Linked DNA regions of Homo sapiens: region 2 is linked to region 1. A link means that fine-mapping ties the variant in region 1 to the expression of a gene that starts in the linked region. Tissue or cell type: aorta. Region 1 holds a variant in brackets; the other region holds the start of a gene. All regions are shown on one strand. Distances are between the middles of the regions.

Region 1 (5,000 bases):
CTGAGTCAGGAGGATCGCTTGAACCTAGGAGGTGGAGGTTGCAGTGAGCCGAGATCGGGTCACTGCACTCCAGCCTGGGTGACAGAGTGAGACTCTGTCTCAAAAAAAAAAAAAAGGAAAAAAAAACCTCATAGCCAGAATGTACCCCCTCCCCAGTCTTAAGGGTAAACTGAGGCACAGACTCCAGATTCCTGAGCACCCAGCTTCTCTCTCTCCAGGAAGCCATGCCTATTCACTTCTTACTTCTCCCCCTTCATATTCTTCCCTTATTTCCTTCCTTCCTTCCTTCCTCCCTCCTTCCCTCCCTCCCTCTTCTTTCCCTCCCTCCCTCCCTCTCTCTCTTGTTCTTTTCTTCTCTTTTTTTTTGAGACAGAGTTTCACTCTTGTTGCCCAGGCTGGAGTGCAATGGCACGGTCTTGGCTCACTGCAACTTCCGCCTCCCGGGTTCAAGCGATTCTCCTGCCTCAGCCCCCGGAGTAGCTGGGATTACAAGCATGTGCTCATGGGCCACCACACCCGGTTAATTTTGTATTTTTAGTAGAGATGAGGTTTCTCCATGTTGGTCAGGCTGGTCTCGAACTCCCAACCTCAGGTGATCCGCCCGCCTTGGCCTCCCAAACTGCTGGGATTACAGGCGTAAGCCACCATGCCGGGCCTACTTTTCTTTCTCTTTCTCTCCTTCTCTGTCTCTCTCTTTTTTTTTTTTGAGACAAAGTCTTGCTCTGGTCGCCCAGGCCAGAGTGCAGTGGCGCAATCTCGGCTCACTGCAACATTCACCTCCCAGGTTTAAGCGATTCTCCTGCCTCAGCCTCCCGAGTAGCTGGGATTACAGGTGACCACCACCACCCCCGGCTAATTTTTTGTGTTTTTAGTATAGAGAGGAGGTTTCACCATGTTGGCCAGGCTAGTCTCGAATTCCCAACCTCAAGTGATCTGTCCACCTCGGCCTCCTGAAGTGCTGGGATTACAGGCATGACCCACCATGCCGGGCCTATCTCTCTCCCTCCCTTCCTCCCTTCCTTCCTTCCTGCCTCCTTTCCTCTCCCTCTGCCTCCCCCTCCCCTTCCCCGTCTCCCTCCTCATCCCCCTCCCCTTCCCCTCCCCTTCCCCCCTCCCTCCCCCATCCCCCTCCCCTTCCCCCTTCCCCTCCCCTTCCCCTCCCCTTCCCCCTTCCCCTCCCCCTCTCCCTCCCCATCCCCCTCCCTTTCCCCCTTCCCCTCCCCTTCTCCCTCCCCCTACCCCTCTCCCTCTTCCCCTTCCTCTCCCCCTCTCCCTCTTCCCCTTCCTCTCCCTCTCCCTGAGACACGATCTCATTCTGTTGCCCAGGCTAGAGTGCAGTGGTGCAATCATAGCTCACTGCAGCCTCAAACTCTTGGGCTCAAATAATCCTCTCCCCTCAGTCTTCTGAGTACTCCTGGCCTCAAACGATCTGCCCGCCTCAGCCTCCCAAAGTGCTGGGATTACAGGCGTGAGCCACCACGCCTGCCCTCTTTTTCTTTTCTCTGGCCATGATGATAGTCTGGAAGGTAAGGCTGTGGCCCCTCACAACAACCTCTGTCCCCCACTGGCTGGGCAATGCCTCATAATCGCGGATGTCCCCTGCGCTGCCCTCAAGCCTCTGTACCGTCACAAGTCTCCGTCGGGGTGGTGATGATCTCAGAAAAAGAGCTGAACCCTGGATTGCAGCGACAGGCGGTGGCATTGACACACGAGGAGTTCTGAGGGCACCACCGGGCACAGCCTGCAAGAGCAGGGAGCACGGTCAGAAGGTGAGGGGTAAGGGAATACACAAAAAGGGGGCACTGGGGGAGATGGGGCAGGGCGCTGAGTTTCTCGTGCGCGAGCCCTCTCTTTCCCTGGGCTGAAGGGGGCTGGGCGGGGGTCCAGG[A/G]CCCTCCCCAGGCTCTGGCTGTGGACTGTGCTTTCTGCTTCCCAGCAGACTCACCCCTGGAGTCCTGGGTTTCAGCTCCCGGCAGAGTCAGCCAGACACAGAATGCTGCAACAGAGAAAGGAAAGGGGGTCAGAGGGGATCCCAGGGTGGGAAAGGAGGCGTAAGGGTGATGCACTTTGTGGGAGGAGGATGCTGACCCCTCTCAGGCTCAGATCCTGACGGTCGTTCAGAGTGAGCAGATGTCATGTCCCACTCAGATGCTCAAAGCCAAAGAGTCTGTCACCCTGTTCCCATAGGGGCGGGTTTTTTTGTTTTTGTTTTTTTTTTGACACAGGCTCCTGCTTGGTCACCCAGGCTGGAGTGCAGTGGTGCAATCATATCTCACTGCAGCCTCCAATTCCTAGGCTCAAGAGATCCTCCTGCCTCAGCCTCCCAAGTAGCTGGGACCACAGGTGTGCACTAAATTTTTTTTTCTTTTTGAGACAGAGTCTTGCTCTGTCGCCCAGGCTGAAGTGCAATGCTGTGATCTTGGCTCACTGCAATCTCTACCTCCTGGGTTCAAGTGATTCTCCTGCTTCAGCCTCCTGAGTAGCTGGGATTACAGGAGTCTGCCACCACACCCGGCTAATTTTTTGTATTTTTACTAGAGACAGGGTTTCACCATATTGGCCAGGCTGGTCTCGAACTCCTGACCTCAGGTGATCTGCCTGTCTTGGCCTCCCAAAGTGCTGGGATTACAGGCGTGAGCCACATTTCCTGACTCAAAATTTTTAAAATAAAATAATTTATCATGCCAGGCCAAAAAATTAAAAATAATTTTTTTTTTTGAAACGGAGTCTCACTCTGTCACCCAGGCTGGAGTGCAGTGGCATGATCTCAGCTCACTGCAAGCTCCGCTTCCTGGGTTCATGCCATTCTCCTGCCTCAGCCTCCCGAGTAGCTGGGACTACAGGCGTCCACCACCACACCCGGCTAATTTTTTGTATTTTTAGTAGAGATGGGGTTTCACTGTGTTAGCCAGTATGGTCTCGATCTCCTGACCTCGTGATCCACCCACCTCGGCCTCCCAAAGTGCTGGGATTACAGGCATGAGCCACTGTGGCCGGCCTAAAAATAATTCAAAAAATTATTTTACAGACAGAGTCTTGCTCTGTTGCCCAGGCTGATCTTGAACTCCTGGCCTCAAGCGATCCTCCCCGCCTCAGCCTCCCGAGCTCGGCTTGAGGGTGGAGTTTCAGGAACTGAGTAGGGAAGGGCCATGAGCCTGGTGGGGGTCTCAGCTCCAGCTGCTGCTCTTCTGACCTGGGGTGTGTGGGGAGTGGCTAAGAAAACAGACAGGAGCCAGGCATCCCCAGTTCAAATCCCAGACAGTGGGCCTCTCTGCCTCAGTTTCCCTCTGTAGAATAGGGATGATGGCGCCCACTCCCCAGTGTAGTGTGTGTGGGAGTAAACCACATGACTGCTGTCCGGTGTGCCTGAGCATTTACTGCCATCTTCATTTCTTCTTCTTTTATTTATTTATTTATTTTATTTTTTTTCTGAGACAGAGTCTCTCTCTGTCGCCCAGGCTGGAGTGCGATGGCACGATCCTGGCTCACTGCAACCTCCACCTCCCGGGTTCAAGCAATTCCTCTGCCTCAGTCTCCAGAGTATCTGGGATTACAGGCACCCGCCACCAAGCCCGGCTGATTTTTTTGTATTTTTGTAGAGACGGGGTTTCACCATGTTGGCCAGGCTGGTCTTGAACTCCCGGCCTCAAGTGATCCTCCCGCCTTGGCCTCCAAAAGTGCTGGGATTACAGGCGTGAGCCACCGTGCCCAGCCTGCCATCTTCATTTCTCTTTTTTTTTTTTTTTTTTTTTGAGACGGAGTCTTGCTCTGTCGCCCAGGCTGGAGTGCAGTGGTGCAAACTTGGCTCACTGCAAGCTCCGCCTCCCGGGTTCACACCATTCTCCTGTCTCAGCCTCTCGAGTAGCTGGGACCACAGGCTCCCGCCACCACGCCCAGCTTATTTTTTTGTATTTTTAGTAGAGACAAGGTTTCACCATGTTAGCCAGGATGGTAGTCTTGATCTCCTGACCTCATGATCCGCCCGCCTCAGCCTCCCAAAGTGCTGGAATTACAGGCGTGAGCCACCGCGCCCGGCCTCTCTTTTTTTTTTTTTTTTTTTTTTTTTTGAGATGGAGTCTTGCTCTGTTGCCCAGGATGAAGTGCAGTGGTGTGATCTCTGCTCACTGCAAGCTCCACCTCCCGGGTTCACGCCATTCTCCTGCCTCAGCCTCCAGAGTAGCTGGAACTACTGGCGCCCACCACCACGCCTGGCTAACTTTTTATATTTTTAGTAGAGAAGGGGTTTCACCATGTTAGCCAGGATGGTTTCGATCTCCTGACCTCGTGATCCACCTGCCTTGGCCTCCCAAAGTGCTGGCACAAGCCGCCAGGCCCTGCCTGCCATCTTCATTTCTTTAGGTAAAAATGAAGGCGTGGTCAGGCACAGTGGCTCATGCCTGTAATCCCAGCACTTTGGGAGGCCGAGGCGGGTGGATCACTTGAGATCGGGAGTTCGAGACCAGCCTGCCTAATATGGTGAAACCCCCTCTCTACTGAAAATACAAAAAATTAGCTGGGCGTGGTGGTGGGTGCCTGTTATCCCAGCTACTTGGGAGACTGAGGCTTGAGAATCGCTTGAACTAAGGAGGCAGAGTTGCAGCAAGCCAAGATCACGCCACTGCACTCCAGCCTGAGTGACAGAGCAAGACTCCGTCTCAGAAAAAAAAAAAAAAAAATGACGGTGTTGGATCACCCAGGCTCTGAGATGCCCTGGACCTCCACGCTTCCTCAGGGACACAGGTGCACACACACCACACCCACAACTGCCACTGGCCCTGGCGGTCTGTCCTGGAACCCAGTGGTGATATTTCACCCCCGGGCCCCCCTCCCACAGGAAGACGCTGTAGCCGCCTGTTGGGGTGCACGTGGAGTGGCGGTTCCCAGCACTCAGGGGGTTCCCCCTCCCAAGGCATGTTCTGGGGGACCCTCCTCAGGTCACCAGGGGATTCAGAGATGGGGACCTAGGGATCTCCTTGCTGTTCACCAGAGAGATAGAGACAAAG
Region 2 (5,120 bases), 390 kb before region 1:
AACATAGGCAGACACCCCGGCAGGGACCAGATCAGCGAGGCTGAAGGAGGCTTCCTTTAGCTGGGCGGCAGCGGAGTGGAGTGGCAGGAGTACTACTAATTTGCATGGTTTACCATATAGGGCCCCACTCAGCACAGGCTCTGTGCTGGTGCTCTGCAGAGAAAAAGACAAAAGTCACTCAGGGGGCTGACAGCCTAATGCGGCTCGAGGGCAGATGGTTGCTAGGGAAGAAGGGAGATGGTGAGAAGTATTGGAGAGACTCAAGAAAGCCGCCAGGAATGGTGACTCACGCCTGTAATCCCAACGCTTTGGGAGGCTGAGGCGCGTGGATCATTTGAGGACAGGAGTTCGAGACCAGCCTGGCCAACATGGTGAAACCCTGTCTCCACTAAAAATACAAAAATTATCTAGATGCGATGGCAGGTGCCTATAATCCCAGCTACTCGGGAGGCTGAGGCAGGAGAATTGCTTGAACCCGGGAGGCAGAGATTGCAGTGAGACGAGATAGCACCACTGCACTCCGGCTTGGGTGACAGAGCAAGACTTCGTCTCAGAAAAAAGTAATAATAAATAATAATAATAATAATAAAATAAAAATTTAAAAAGAATGTTTCAGGCCGGGCATTGTGGTTCACGCCTGTAATCCCAGCACTTTTGGGATGCCAAGGCAGGCAGATCACTTGAGGCCAGAAGTTCGAGACCAGCCTGACCAACATAGCGAAACTCCATCTCTGCTAGAAATACAAAAATTAGCCAGGCGTGGTGGCTTGCACCTGTAATTCCAGATACTTGGGAGGCTGAGGCAGGAGAATCTCTTGAACCCAGGAGGCAGAGGTTGCTGTGAGCTGAGATCACATCACCACACTCCAGCCTGGGTGACAGAGCGAGACTCTGTCTCAAAATAAATAAATGAATGAACAAATAAATAAAATAAAATAAAAATACAAAAATTAGCCAGGTGTGGTGGTGGGCACCTGTAGTCCGAGCTACTCTGGAGGCTGAGGCAGGAGAATCGCTTGAACCCGGGAGGCGGAGGTTGCAGTGAGTCGAGATGGCGCCACTGTACTCCAACCTGGGCAACACCAGAGTCTGTCTCTAAAATACAGTAAAATAAAATTAAATTAAGAAGAGTCGATGATCACCATGAAGGGGTGTAGGGACAATCCCTGGCATCAGGAAGTGCCACTACCTCCCTGAGATTCTGCAGACGCCAGCTGTCTGACCTGCCCGTCTGATCTGCAGAGAAGGGACGTTGAGCCCTGGGGTTCTAGCTGGAGTTTCTGGCTTTCTGAGAAAAAAAAGGCAAAATCCCTCCAGACCTGGTCTGGCCCTCTCTCCTTCCAGCTTCTGCTGGTGTTCACTCCCCTCCCCCACAGCCCAGGCCACCCCCACAGGAGCCCGGGACAGGAAGGGGTAAATTCTAGGACTGTGGATGTTTGATTATTCCCAGGACAATAGTTCTCTGACTTCAGTCATTAGTGACTTTTTTCTCCATCGCTGCAATCTCCCCCTTTGAACAACTGAACTATATTTTCCTTAGCATTCATCACTTCTGCATCTTGAATTTACTCATGTAACAAGGAGACTTGATTTCGGCATCCTCACTGAAAAACCCTCCTCATTGCCCCAGATAGTAGGGAAACCTAAAAATAAATATAAATATGAGGAACACAAAACCAAGTCCTTGAATTCTGGCTGGATACAGACACCTGCTAAGCCTCAGGGTCACGGAGGCGCTAAAGACATGTTAGTGCCCAGTGGAGACTTTCCCCTGGGCTCATCGCAGGGACTCCAGGGCTGGGCTGCCGGCCTGTGGATCTGAGTCTCAGCTGGGTGAGTCACTTGTGCCTCAGTTTCCTCCTCTGTCAAATGGGAATGACAACATCATTGCAGATGTTTTAAGGAGTAAATGAGTTAATATAGATTAAAAAAAAAAAGCACTTAGGACCAGACCTGGTACAAATTAAGTGCTCCATAAATAATAGCATTTTCTTGGCAGGATAGCGAGATCTCGTCTCTACAAAAAAAAAAAACACTTAAGGAGAAAACTAGCCAGACGTGATGGTGCACAGCTGTAGTCCCAGCTCCTCAGGAGGCTGAGGCAGGAGGATCCCTTGAGCCCTGAAGTTTGAGGCTGCAGTGAGCTGTGATGGTGACCCTGCACTCCAGCCTGGGTGACAGAGTAAGATCTCTTAAAAATATATATAGCGTTTTAAAAAATGATTACGTACCTCAAGAGACAAGCTAATCATATGATTTATCCAGAAAGGAAAGAACCCTCCTATCACATGATTCTCTGTTGATTAACGAAGTGCCCAGGGGCCTCTGAAATATAAGTTTCCCACAGGAGGAAACTGGCTTAGAAAGACCAGAAAGATCCGGGGGGTCTGCTCTGTGCGGTGAAGCTTCTCTTCTTGGCACCTGCCTGGCATCGGAAGAGGGCCCCTTCTCCCTCCCTGGGCTTTTATGTGGACACTGTAATGCCTCAGTTTTCTTTCTTTCTTTTTGTTTTTGACACAGGGTCTCACTCTATCACCCAAGCTGGAGTGCAGTGGCACCATCTTAGCTCACCGCAGCCTCAAACTCCCCAGCTCGGGTGATTCTTCCTGCCTCAGCCTCCTGAGTAGTAGCAGCTGGGACCACAGACGTCTGCCACCAAGCCCAGGTAATTTTTTTTCTTTTTGAAGAAACAGAGCTTTGCCATGTTGCCCAGGCTGGTCTCAAACTCCTGAGCTCAAGCGATCCTCCTGCCTCGGCCTCCCAGAGTGCTGGGATCACAGGTGTGGAGAAATAGGAACGCTTTTACACTGTTGGTGGGAATGTAAATTAGTTCAACCATTGTGGAAGATAGTGTGGTGATTTCTCAAGGATCCAGAACTAGAAATACCATTTGACTCAGCGATCCCATTGCTGGGTATATACCCAAAGGATTATAAATCATGCTACTATAAAGACATATGCACATGTATGTTTATTGCGGTACTATTCACAATAGCAAAGACCTGGAATCAACCCAAATGTCCATCAATGATAGACTGGATTAAGAAAGTGTGGCACATATACACCAGGGAATACTATGCAGCTATAAAAAAGGATGAGTTCATGTCCTTTGCAGGGACACAGATGAAGCTGAAAACCATCATTCTCAGCAAACTAACACAGAAACAGAAAACCAAACACCACATGTTCTCACTCATAGGTGGGAACTGAGCAATGAGAACACCTGGACACAGGGCGGGAAACATCACACACTGGGGCCTGTCGGGGGGTGGGGGCCTGGGGGAGGGATTGCATTAGGAGAAATACCTAATGTAAATGACGAGTTGATAGGTGCAGCAAGCCAACATGGCACATGTATGCCTATGTATCAAACCTGCTCGTTGTGCACATGTACCCTAGAACTTAAAGTCTAAAAAATTTAATTAATTAATTAATTAATTAATTTAAAAAGAAAGAAAGAAACCGAGCTTCGCCATGTTGCCCAGGCTGGTCTCAAACTCCTGAGCTCAAGCGATCCTCCTGCCTCGCCCTCCCAGAGTGCTGGGATCACAGGCGTGAGCCTCTGTACCTGGCCTCAGTTTCCTCATCTGGAAAACAGCAGGGGAAGATACTGCCAGCTGGGACGCAGGCTCTGCCAACTCTGGCATGCCAAAGCTCTGGGCACAGGGTGAGCCCTACCAAAGTGGGAGCCCAGAGCTATTTCTGACAAGGCCCCTGCGTGCCTGCCCAGGGAAGAGCCAAGTGGCCCCAGGCGAGACCGCCCCGCCCGGCTGCCACACCTTCCCCTGCACAGCAGCCAGCCTGGAACACACAGAGGCCAGAGGGTTGGTCAGAGCCACATGGTGGAAACTCCAGCAGAGGGATTTTTAAAGCAGGTTGCACTTCATTCTTGCTGAGCGAGTACACGTGTGTGTGTGTGTGTGTGTGTGTGTGTGTGTGTGTGTGCAGCGCCCCTGGTTCTGTGTTTTTATTGTGCTTTCCTGCTGGCTTCCAGCTGCACCGCCAGTTCCGGGGAGGGCCCTGGGCCAGCGGCTGTCCGCCCCCCCTCCTTTATAAAGTCCTGGCCTCGGGACAGCCCGCACAGCTGCCCAGCCTGCGGAGACGGGACAGCCCTGTCCCACTCACTCTTTCCCCTGCTGCTCCTGCCGGCAGCTCAGCTGGAACCATGGGAGGCCGCGTCTTTCTCGTCTTTCTCGGTAAGTACTTTGGGGCCCCGCTGGGGGTGGTAGCGAGGAAGCTCCAGCGGGACCCCTTGGATGCGTCTGAGAAACGGGAGGCGCCGCTGGTGTCTGTGGGGCCGGCGATGGAGAAAGCCACATGGTCAAGCAGGCACTCACGGGCACACGGCGAGAGGGGCTGGTGGTGCTTGGGCACCCCCACACCCCGGCAGGAACTCCAGGGTGCTCTCGGAGCCTGCTACCCTGCCCGGAGGGATCCTCAAGCTTTCTACTGGAGCCAGTTTGGCATCTGCTCCATAAGAGGGGAAACTGAGGCACGGGGGAAGGAAAGGGGCAAAAAGTGAGTGCTAGGACCCCAGAGCCACTGCTCTTAATATAGCGCATAGAAAGACATGGGCGGGGGGCGGGGAAAATAGAGGCCAGGACTTCTCCACTGCAGGGTACCCCCAGCTTCTCCCTTCTTTCTCTCTCTCTCTCTGTCTTTCTCCTTCTGTCTCTCTTTCAGTCTCTCTATCTCCCTAATCTCCGTTTTCTCTCTACCTCTGCCTCTTTGTCTCTCTCTCTGGTGAACAACAAGGAGATCCCTAGGTCCCCATCTCTAAAGCCCCTGGTGACCTGAGGAGGGTCCCCCAGGACATGCCTTGGAAAGGGGAACTTCCTGAGTGCTGGGAACCGCAGCGCCACATGCACCCCAACAGGCGGCCACAGCGTTTTCCTGTGGGAGGGGCGCCCGGGGTGAAATATCACCACTGGGTTTCAGGATGGGCCGCCAGGGCTGGCGGCGGTTGTGGTGTGTGTGCACCTGTGTCCCTGAGGAAGCATGCGGTTCCAGGGCATCTTAGAGCCTGGGGGATCCAGCGCCATCATTTTTTTTTTTTTTTTTCTGAGGCGGAGCCTTGCTCTGTCGCCCAGGCTGGAGTGCAGTGGCACGATCTCAGCTTG

Evidence for each region. PIP is the estimated chance that this variant, and not a neighbour inherited with it, causes the effect.
Region 2: it holds the start of ADGRE2, and the variant in region 1 is fine-mapped to the expression of ADGRE2 in aorta (GTEx, PIP above 0.99). The same link has a PIP of 0.9 or more in tibial artery.

Annotation. Positions count from the first base shown.
Region 1 is chr19:14,385,443-14,390,442 of GRCh38, reverse strand. ADGRE5 (adhesion G protein-coupled receptor E5) reads right to left here. Exons shown (of 20, transcript NM_078481.4): 2 at 1,943-1,993; 3 at 1,625-1,741. Among named protein-coding and RNA genes, the nearest start is that of ADGRE5, 6.5 kb to the right of the region's middle. The variant A/G (reference allele first, on the strand shown) is at 1,889.
Region 2 is chr19:14,775,802-14,780,921 of GRCh38, reverse strand. It overlaps ADGRE2 (adhesion G protein-coupled receptor E2), which reads left to right and starts at 2,362. Exons shown (of 21, transcript NM_013447.4): 1 at 2,362-2,665; 2 at 3,995-4,196. The coding sequence starts at 4,166. RefSeq lists an enhancer at 4,826-4,885.